2 separate regions of the Homo sapiens genome follow, and region 2 is linked to region 1. Evidence: fine-mapped expression QTL. A gene starts in region 1. The other region holds a variant in brackets. All regions are shown on one strand. Distances are between the middles of the regions.

Evidence for each region. PIP is the estimated chance that this variant, and not a neighbour inherited with it, causes the effect.
Region 2: its variant is the best candidate, but not a certain one, in a credible set for the expression of CAMSAP1 in whole blood (INTERVAL, PIP 0.89).

The regions. Positions count from the first base shown.
Region 1 is chr9:135,905,098-135,910,319 of GRCh38, forward strand. CAMSAP1 (calmodulin regulated spectrin associated protein 1) reads right to left here and starts at 2,449. Exons shown (of 17, transcript NM_015447.4): 1 at 1,903-2,449. The coding sequence starts at 2,062. It overlaps CAMSAP1-DT (CAMSAP1 divergent transcript), which reads left to right and starts at 2,736. Exons shown (of 2, transcript XR_007061860.1): 1 at 2,736-3,822. RefSeq lists an enhancer at 1-941 and silencers at 1,588-1,637, 2,038-2,107, 2,188-2,297, 2,338-3,017.
Region 2 is chr9:135,812,066-135,817,287 of GRCh38, forward strand. It overlaps CAMSAP1 (calmodulin regulated spectrin associated protein 1), which reads right to left. Exons shown (of 17, transcript NM_015447.4): 15 at 3,825-3,940; 16 at 3,032-3,150. Among named protein-coding and RNA genes, the nearest start is that of CAMSAP1, 93 kb to the right of the region's middle. The variant G/A (reference allele first, on the strand shown) is at 3,163.

The sequences.
Region 1 (5,222 bases):
CATGTTTCTTTTCTTTAAATGCCCACCTTTTAATAATTCCAGAACTCAAAAGCCCATGTTAGTATCAGATTGTGAATTCATCATCCGATGAGTCAACAAGGATTAAAGAGTGACCTGGTACCGGAAGTGAAACTAGACGAACCCAATACTAACACAGAGACACGCGTACTTATTTCTGGATGGCTGACAAATCCCATGCTGAATGCCAAAGCTAAATGCAATGAAATAAAAAATGCATGCACCTTGCTAAAGAAATTGGAAAGCAGATCGTGAAAGTTCTTTTTATAGCAATTTGTCTAACATCCGCTGCCTGAGCCCTCAGCCCTCTCCACATATAAAATCTTAAAAAACATGCAGGAGTAAAACTTTGTGCTCGGATCCCAGGAGCCATGCCCAAGAATGCACTGGGCTCCACAGCACCTACGGGAGCCCAGCCAGCGCCCACGAGCAGCTGCGGTGAACAGTCCTCAGTGAGACACTCCACAGCAGCGGAAATGTGGAAAAGTGAAGATGAAGTCAAGAAGAACCTAAGAACGTAACGTGGGATAAGGGAATAACAAAAGCCAGTCTCAGAAAGAGACATCATTGGCAAAGGTGTAAAAACTAGTTCGTGGTGTAAGCACATGCGGCAAAATACAAAGAAAAGCAAAACAGTGACTAACACAAGGTGTGAGGCAGGTGAGCCCACGCAGCCGGCAGTGACTGCAAGATACCCAGGCGTCCGCTCTCGGGCTGTTCTTTGCACCTGACTCAAGTTTCATACCTACATCTTACCAATTCCGTTCTCAAAAACTCATGTGAAGTCTTGGATGTAGCAGTGTTTCTTCCTCATTACAACACAGAAACTAAGGTTCCACTGAGCCAGTAAACAAGAACTGTAAAACTGAAAACTGTCAAAGGAAAAACTCTTTCCCAATTACTACTTACACAGTACAAAAACCAGTTTGAAATAAGGCGAGTTATTTAATCCCTAAAACTTACAAAACGCGTTTGTCCTTATGACTAACTCGAGTCTAGCTGGGGCACAGGCCACTGTCAAACAGGGCAACGCCTACTCAGCGTTTTCCAAACTGGTCAACTGAACTCTTCTCTGGAAGGGCTGTCTCCTTTAGTCTTACTCTAAAAAGGGTAATTTTTCACCAGAATAAAGGCAAATATTTTAAGAATGCTTCAAATGAAAAGAGGATTGCAGAAATATTAACCTTTAATTGTACCTGAAACAAAGCACCTGAAATTAATAAAGAAGTCAGCCACTGACGAGAATCACTAGGTCTGTCCTGTTCCCAGGGCACGAAACAGAAGCGTCTTAATCCACTAAGCACATTAGGGCCTAACAAACTGGACTGAGTAACAAGGTTACCTAGTTCTTCCAAACAGGAATTAACCAAAGGGGATCATTATGATTAAGCACAATGCGCGGAATACGCAATTTCTAGTTGGGGAATTCAACAGCTGACAGCTTGTAAGCATCAAAATTCATAACAAGTGCAAGGCTCGGAATCACAGGTCCAGCACTGGACGATGCCCGGCGCGCCGGGAAGCGGCGCCTCAGACGGCGGCCCCGCGTCCCCATGGTCCCTCCCTGCGCCCAGAACCGGGCAGCTCCTTCCCGCCGCCGCCGCCGCCAACGGGAGGCTGGGGGCACTCCCGAAATAGGAGCGGAAGCCCCGACCCACGCCGCCCTCCGCCGCAGGGACGCCCACTCGCCAGGTGACCGCGTCCCCACGCTCCGCGTTGCCCGGGCGCCGCCAGGACCTCGGAGGCGGCCGGCCCAGCCCCGACCCTGTGCGGACGCGGCACAAAGGCGCGGCGCGCGGACCCCGACCCGGCCGGACCCCGGCCGCGTCCCCCGGCCCCGGCCCGCGCCCCTGGCCCCCGCCCCGCGCCCCTCACCCGGCCCACCTCGGCCGTAGGCCTTGGCGCAGATCCACTGCAGGTTGGCGGCGATCTTGGCGCGCGCCGCGTCGTAGCGGTCCAGGGGCACGAGGTCGGCGGCGCCGTCCGGCGGGGCCTCCATCTTCCTCCAGCCCTCGGCGGCGGCGCGGCCGCTCGCGTCCACCATCTGCAGACAAAGGGCTGAGGCGGCGGCCCGGCCGCAACAAAGGCGCCGCCGCCCCTCGCCGCGCCGGGCCCGGTGCGCCCCGAGCCACCACTCGGCCCCGCAGCCGGCCAGCCGGGAGGGGCGCCCGAGCGCGGCCCCCGCCTCACCTCACAGCCGCCGCCGTCGCCGCCCCCGCGGCTGCTGCATGCTGCGGGCGCTGAGCCCGAGCGGAGGAGGTGCCGAGCCCGCGGCCCAAAGAGGCGGCGGCAGGAGGGCGCGGGCCGGGGGCGGGGGCGGGCGCGGGGGCGGGAGCGGGCCGGGGGCGGTGGCAGCGCGTGCGCGGTCCCGGGTGAGCGGCGGCGGCGGCGACAGCGGCTGAGGCGGTGGCCAAGGAGCGGGAGCGCGCTCACCGCCGGGGCCTCGCACAGGCGCAGTAGGCACCGCCCGCCACCCCGCCCTCGACCCCGCCCCCAGCTCCGCTCCCTTCTCGCGCCTGCCCCGCCCCTTTCCGCAGGCGCAGTAGGCACCGCCCGCCAGCCCGCGCCCGCCCCGCCCCTTTCCGCAGGCGCAGTAGGTGGCACCCGCAGGCCTGTGCCTGCCCCGCCCCTTTCCGCAGGCGCAGTGAGCGTCGACCCGCCCCTCCCCGCCCGCTTCCGCAGGCGCAGTAGGACCCGCCCTGGTCCGCGCCTGCCCCGTTGCTTTCCTCAGGCTCTAAGGCCCGCGGTGTGGAGCGCGGCGTAGGCAGCGGGGAGTGGGCGGCGCGGGGTGGGTGGAGTGGGTCGGCGGCGGGGATCCTGCCGAGCCCGCAGCTGCCCTCTTTTAGCGCCGTGTCTCCTCCCCGGCCCTGGCTCGTCCCACCTCAGCCACAGCCCGGCCCCCTGGCCGGCCGAGGTCTCGCCGCCGGCGCCCTGGGGACCTCGTGGGTGTGGCCGGCGGCGACCTCGGCAGGCGACAGCCCAGCAGACGGGCACCAGGTGGACGTGCCAGTCTCCAGACCCCCGTCCCGGTGCAGGGAAGGTGGGCGTTTGGACCCCTGAGGCAGAAACAGGTGCGGCCCCGCCGGCGCATCCCCCGGAAGGGACGCTGACTTCGTTCCCCTGGAGCCTGCGTCGGGGCCCGCGCTGGGCTGAGAATTACGGGAACGCCGTGAGAGTTTGCATTCCGAGGATTTGGTCTGAGAACCTCACCAGCGAAATAGAGAACTGCCCCCGGGAGAGCCGGCCCACGTGCCGCCCACCGGCGCCTTGACGGCAGGGAGAGGTCGAGCTTCCAGGGAGCGGGCGCCCGGCGCGGGGCTCCCAGCCTGTCTGTACCTGGTCGAGACACCCCGTGCCAGAGGCGGAACATGTATGAAATGCCAGGTGCCCAGAGGACCCAGGCAGTCCGTCATTCACATACCAACCCACGTGCAGGCTTCAATTCAACCTTGAAGCCATTTGGGCCTGGGCTTTTTTGATGACTTATTTGATTCATAGTTTTTTGGTTACTAATTGAGTCTCTTCACTTGTTATAGGTCTGTTGAGATTGTCTATTTTTTCTTGAGTCAGCCGTCTGAAAAGAACACGAGGTGGACAGGGCAGAGCGGTCAAGGAAAGCCATAGGAGGAGGGCACTTATTTGAGCAAAGACCGGCGGGACGTGGGCGTCGAGGGTAAGGATATCTGCAGAAGTACTGTCTTGAGCAAGGAGCACGGCAGACAGAGCCTCTGAGACACGAGAGCCTGGAGTGTAAGAAACACAGTAGAGGCCACTAAGTCGAGAACGCAGGAGCTGGAAGGACTGGTAGGAAATGGGAGGTGGGGACATGGAGGGATGCAGACAGGTCCTGCACAGTCAGAACTGTGGCCCCTTCTCTGCAGGAAATGGGCAGCCTTCGGAAGACTGAGCACACGGAAGGATATGACTAACCCTTTAAAAGGGTCATTCTGACTCCTGGGTGAAGAACAGACTAGGAAGGGCTGAGGAGGAGGCAGGAGGCCATCTACTGTTATATGGGATGTGGAGTGTGACCCGGAAAGGTCAAGTGTGACTCTAAGGGCTTTTTGTGTACTGATCTTTTATCCTGCAACCTTGCTAAACCCATTTATTAGTTCTTCTTGTCTTTTAGTGGCATTTATTAGTTGTTCTAGTGTTTTAGTGGATTCCTTGGGATTTTATACAAAAGCGTGTCATTTGTGAATAGAGATCAGTTTATCTCTTCCTTTCTAATCTGGATGCCTTTTATTTCTTCTCCTTGCCTAGCTGCCCTATCTAGAAGCTCCAGTACAATATTGACTAGAAGCAGCAAGAGTGGACATCCTTGTCTTGCTCCTGATTTCAGGGAGGAGGCATCCAGTCTTTCACCTTTGGGTATGATGATAGCTGTGGGTGCTTAAAAAATAGGTTTTATCAGGCTGGGCACAGTGGCTCACGCCTGTAATCCCAACCCTTTGGGAGGTCGAGGCGGGCGGATCACGTGGGGTCCAGAGTTTGAGACCAGCCTGGCCAACATGGAGAAATCCCATCTCTACTAAAAATACAAAAAGTTAGCTGAGGTTGGTGGCCGGTGCCTGTAATCCCAGCTAAAAAAGGGAAACTGTCTAAAAATCATTAAAAAAAAGGGTACTTCCTCAACCTGATAAAACCTATTTTTTGTTTGTTTGAGATAGTGTCTCACTCTGTCACCCAGGCTGGAGTACAGTGGCTGGATCTTGGCTCACTGCAACCTCTGCCTCCCAGGTTCAAGCGATTTTCCTGCCTCAGCCTCCTGAGTAGCTGGGATTGCAGGCACAGGCCGCCACGCCCAGCTAGTTTTGTATTTTTAGTAGAGATGGGGTTTTACCATGTTGGCCAGGCTGGTCTTGAACTCCTGACCTCCAGTAATCCACCCCCCTGGGCCTCCCAAAATGCTGGGATTATAGGCGTGAGCTACCACGCCCAGCCGAGGAAGTATCTTCTATTTCTAGTTTGTTGAGTGTGTTTATCATGAAAACGTGTCAGATTTGGTTAAATGATTTTTCCACATCCATTGAGATGATGATCATGGGTTTTTTTCCTTGTTCTAGTAATGTGGTGTGTTACATTAATTGACTTTCAGATATTGAAAAGACACTTATCCCCTGCGTTCAGATAAATTCCAGTTGGTCATGGAGTATCTGTCTTCCTGGATTCAGTTTAATACAATTTTGTTGAGTGATTTTTTT
Region 2 (5,222 bases), 93 kb before region 1:
TTACCGTGGGACCCAGCAATTCCTCTCTCACATATGTACTCAAGGGAAATGAAAACACGCATCCATACAAAACACTGCATATAAATAACAGCACTATCCCTTCACAGGCAAAAAGTAGAAACGAAAATATCACATGTACCCCCAAAAGCATGCACATCTGTTCCCTATCAATAAAAAATGTTTGAAGAAGAATCAACCCAAGTGTGCATCAGCAGATGACGAGATGAACAGCATGGGGTCGGAGCATGCAATGGAGCATTACCCAGCTACAAAAAGGAATGGAGGTCCGGTACACACTACACTGAGAAACCTCAGAGCATCACGCTAAGTGAAAGAAGCCTGACCCAAAAGGCCATATAATTATGATGCCAGTTATGTAAATGCCCAGAACAGGCAAATCCATGGAGACAGACTGGCGACCGCCAAGAGCTTGGGCGCGGGAAGACTTAGGGGGGTGACTGTTCACGGGCGTGGAGTTTCTTTTTATGAGGATGAAAATGCTCTGAAATTAGGCGGTGGTGATGGTTGTGCTACTCTATTAATGTACTAAAAACCACTGAATGGTATAACTTAAAAGGGTGAATTTTACGGTATGTGAATGATATCTCATAAAGCTGTTTGGGCCGGGCGCTGTGGCTCACGCCTGTAATCCCAACACTTTGGGAAGCTGAGGTGGGCGAATCACTTGAGGTCAGGAGTTCAAGACCAGCCTGGCCAATATGGTGAAACCCCATCTCTACTAAGGATACAAAAATTAGCCAGGCGTGGTGGCACATGCCTGTAGTCCGAGCTACTCAGAGAATCGCTTGAGTCTGGAGGGGTGGAGGTTGCAGTGAGCTGAGATTGCACCACTGTACTCCAGTCTGGGCGACAGAGTGAGACTCCATCTCAAAAAAAAAAAAAAGAAGAATCTGAAGTATGACAAACTGCTGATGCCTGTCGCCGCGTTTGTTGATTGTATTTTAAAGTTTAAAACGTATCTTCAAGTGTTTTGGTAACTTTTAAAAACAAACCCTCCACACGCCTGGGAATGGGAGTGCACCTGGGTCTGCCCTCACAGTTCTCCACATGCGGCCCAGGCATCCTGAGGCCTTCCCAGGAATCTCAGGGTCAAGCCCTCGACCTCGAAAGGCTAAGGCCTCATCGCCTCTCCCAAGTGTGCGGCAGAACCTTCCCAAGGCCCTGGGCTGTGTGGTTGTAATGGACGGAGGGCCCGAGCGGCTGAGATGCCAGCCCTCTTATGTCAATGCCACTCTTCTATTTATTTGGCTTTAGAAAAGTTACTTTTCATAAATATGCAATGTATCAGCATATAATGGGGTTTATTATTTTAAATAATACGTATTTTTTAAAAGAATCCAAAACTGTCTATATAATACTGATTTCAACCCTACTCACTGTGTTTAAATATGAACAGAATTAGATGCCAAAAAGAAAGAAACATTTAATTTGTAGCGACAGCGGGACTGTGGGGAGTGGGGTTCATCTTATTTACTTATTGCTGCCTGCACGATAAGGAAGCGTGTGGTGCCCACAGCTTATGTGGCACAGCTGAGAGGGCTGCTGTCCTAGAAAGGCCTGCCTGCTGGGCGGCCCTTGGTGGGCACCTGGGAACTTGCTATCTGCAGAGCTCGCTCCCAGTCACTCACTGGCAAGACAGGAGGGCCTCCTGAGCCTGAACTGCTGGTCTGCACGCTGACGCTGGTTTCCTCCCAGGCGTCAGGCACACTGCTGCACACTGGGCAGGGAGTGTGCCTTGTGACCAGCCCCCAAGGAGAGCTCAGGGCATCCAGTCTCAAAAGGGCTTTCCATGGCCCACAGGCTGCTGTGGATCCACTGCTGGAAGAACGAGAGCAGAGGGAGCTGCACAAGGCCTAGCCCCGCCTCTGTCTTCTCCCTCTTCACCCAGTGGCTGTGGCTCCCTCCACAGTGCTGGAATAAATCTAAGCCCTGGGTCGACTCCACACTGAGGGCCACGAGTCCTTCCAGTGCATCTCCGCATGCAGGGTGATCCTGGGGGCCACTGATACAGGGGGCCAACCACCTCTCCGTGTGGAAATCTAAGCAGGAAGGGCATGACCATGGCCTCTTCTGTCCCCAGTGCCACGAGACCTGCCTAGGTCGGGGCCATTCTTAGTCTAGATGATCTTCACTATCAAGAAAAGAACACATCCGTTTTAAAGTGGGTCAGAAATTCCGTATGTCACTTTAATTTTTACAACTAAACCAACTAAGGACCAGGGGTTAGTCTTAATTATTAAAAAGCAGAATTTCTGGTGGATGACAGATTGTTGCATAATTTTCATTCACTCATTCACAAGCCGTTGTATCCCAAGGCCAGCAACTTAAGGCCACACACCAGCCTCAATCTGGGGCAGGGTCCAGTGGCTCTGCCTCCTCTCCCCTGGAATCCCAGTCCTGCCCCTCAGGGGCCAGCCTAGACCCCGTGCAGGACCCTCAGATTCCTGCTTCCAAGCCCCTCCCTGGGCATGCACACTGGGTGCTCCGGAGTCCACACGCTCAGCGGGTGCGCGCCTCTTCCCTCCCTCCCCACTCCATCTTCCCCAACCCACCACTCCGTCCTCCGTCCTCGGTCCTCCCCAACCCACCGCTCCAGCCCTGGCCCCTGTTCCTCATTCACCTCCAGGCTGCCTCCCTGGCTTCCCTGCTGACTGCTCTGATCTACTGGGAAGGGCAGGTGGGTTCCTGGCTCTCCTCTGCCCACACCTGCATCCACTATCTCACTGAGTAGAACTATGTCTTTCCTCAGCCCAGAGGCACCACATGAGGATGTAGCCTCTGAACCCTGCCCCGTCCTCCTGGGTGTTCCTCCAGCACAGGCTCACTGCAGCCCCTGGACCTTGGCACTCCTCACTCCCACCTGCCTGGAACGGCCTCTTCCTTGAAATCTGCATTCTCCCTAGTAACTCTCATGCATCAAAGATTAGGGGTGTTTTCTTTTAAAAAGAACCCTTAATTTATAAACACTTTTTATTCCACATAAAAACTGAGGTTGAAACATGATACTTGCCTCCAATATGGAATTCTTGTGGGGTTCGTTCACTTTTCCAGCCAGGCAGCAATGGGATATGGCATTGTGAATAATCGGCTTGTTTGATTTACTACTGGGCTCCTTAAAGAGCTTGGGACCTAAGAAACGAG[G/A]CCAGGGTTGGTAAAATTATTATTTTAAGGCACGAACACACACAAAAAAGAAAACCAGCAATGTCTTAGAAGCAAGCAATGGGTAGGCTGAATTACAGATATTTATGATTATTTAAAAATGGGAAGTAAAAACCACTTAAATTTATTCAAAAGAATTTTAAGTTATAAATTTTTAGACAACTAAAGACAAAGTAATCAATAATTTATCCCCTTTCTAAATTCAGTGTCTTAACTATAAAAAAAAGACAAAACCAGGTAAATAACTTGTAAAAAGTCTAAAGTTCAAAGGCCCCGGGACATACACCTCAGCCACAGCAGCACCTCCAGTTCACTGTGCCCTGAGCCCACGCCTGCTCCAAGGGCAGCTGGTGAGAGCCAAGCACTTCCACCACTCCCGGGCTCTGCTGCCCCCAGGTCCGCTGCCCCCTGCACAGCAGACAGCAGGGCAGATGACCAGGAGGGCAAGGCAGGCCTAAGAGCTTCTACTAAACCACATGCCCATTTCAGCACCAAAGAGCTCAAATTAGCTCTCTTTCACTACATCAAACATCTTTGTTAGAAAAATACTTTTTAGACCAAAATAGAGAACAGATATTGAAAGAGCCACGCAAAGGCGTATGGCCATGCCCACGATGACCTCTAAGGAGGGCGAACGCCGTCACCTGTGTACTCGGCCACTGAGGCCAGGGAAGATGCCGCCGACGCGGTCTCCCAGTCTCGGTCTGTGCTCCTGCTTGGGTTACGGCTCAGTATGGGCAGGGCTTCCATCGATTCCACTCTGCAGGCAGAAACAGACAAGAGACAGGCAGGTGAAGCGCTGGCTTCCTCTCACCACTGCTGGCAAGGGGCTGGCCCGCAACCAGGACAGGAAGCACATCAGCAGGGGAGGAGGCTTTCGGTGACGGTGGGGGCTCGAGTTGCCACAACTCCCACACAGTACAGACACTCCGAGCAAAATACAAAAGCAAACACTTCAGGCACTAGGGAGTGATGAAGACAGACAGAGGGGAGTCAGCCCTTCACCGAAGGGGTTCACCTCCACGAAGCCCTTGCTCCAGGCACTGCCCCCGTGAGCAGGGCACAGGCACAGCACAGGGCACAGTGCTGCTGGCTCAGGAAGCCAGAGGATGAAGTTTGGGCCACCTGTGCTGCTGCCCAGCCAGGGATGAGACCTAGGGAAGGAGGGGCCACAGCAGGCCGAGTCTGAAAACTTGGGTCCCAGTGACGCTGATCCCTGGAAGGCCTGAGCTCCACCCTGCAGGGAAGTCTCCACTGAGCACAACAGATGCCGAAAGGCTGGACACAGCTGCTCAGAGATGTCGGCTGCTGCTCTCACAAGGGAGGCAGACAGAGCTGGAGTCTGAATCCAGCCAGGGTAACTGACCACCAGAACAAAAACCCAAACAGAATCTGCAGTCCCTCGGAGGGATCTGCCACAAAGCCCAGAGACAACAAGGAGCCATGAGACGGGTGAAGAGACAAGAAAACACGGCCCACAGGTGCACACAGAGCAGGAGCCACACGCTGTGCATATAAAAATAAAGGGACACATGGGCAAGGGAAGCCCTTGCTCCCACGAGAGCTGACAACACGCGTGGAGGAAGCGGTGAGCAGGAGCTCCATGGTGGTCACTAAAGCCCCTGCGGGACAGTTCCGTGAGGTCCAGACCAGTCCCCAGCCTCTCTCCTGAAGTTACTTTCTCATCACAGGAGCGGTCCCGGGGCCCACCTGAGAGGCTGCGTTGAGAAAGACGCACACTCACTTCTGGGCTGCTCAATCAGCAGCGCGAGGCCTCAGTCTCATCACAGGAAGCCGATACTGAGAGGCAGCCAGAAGGATAACTGACCTGTGGTTACCAAAAGTCAAGGTCCAGAAAAACACAGAAAGGCTAAGGAACTGCTCTGGATCGAAGGAGACTACAGGGACATGGCATTTCAAGGCCATTCATCGCCCCAAACCAGATCCTGGACTCGGAAACAACACAGTTGTCAGGGACACTCTTGGGATAACTGAGGACAGCTGAATGGGGACCGCAAATCGGATGAAAGTGCTGCCTTGGT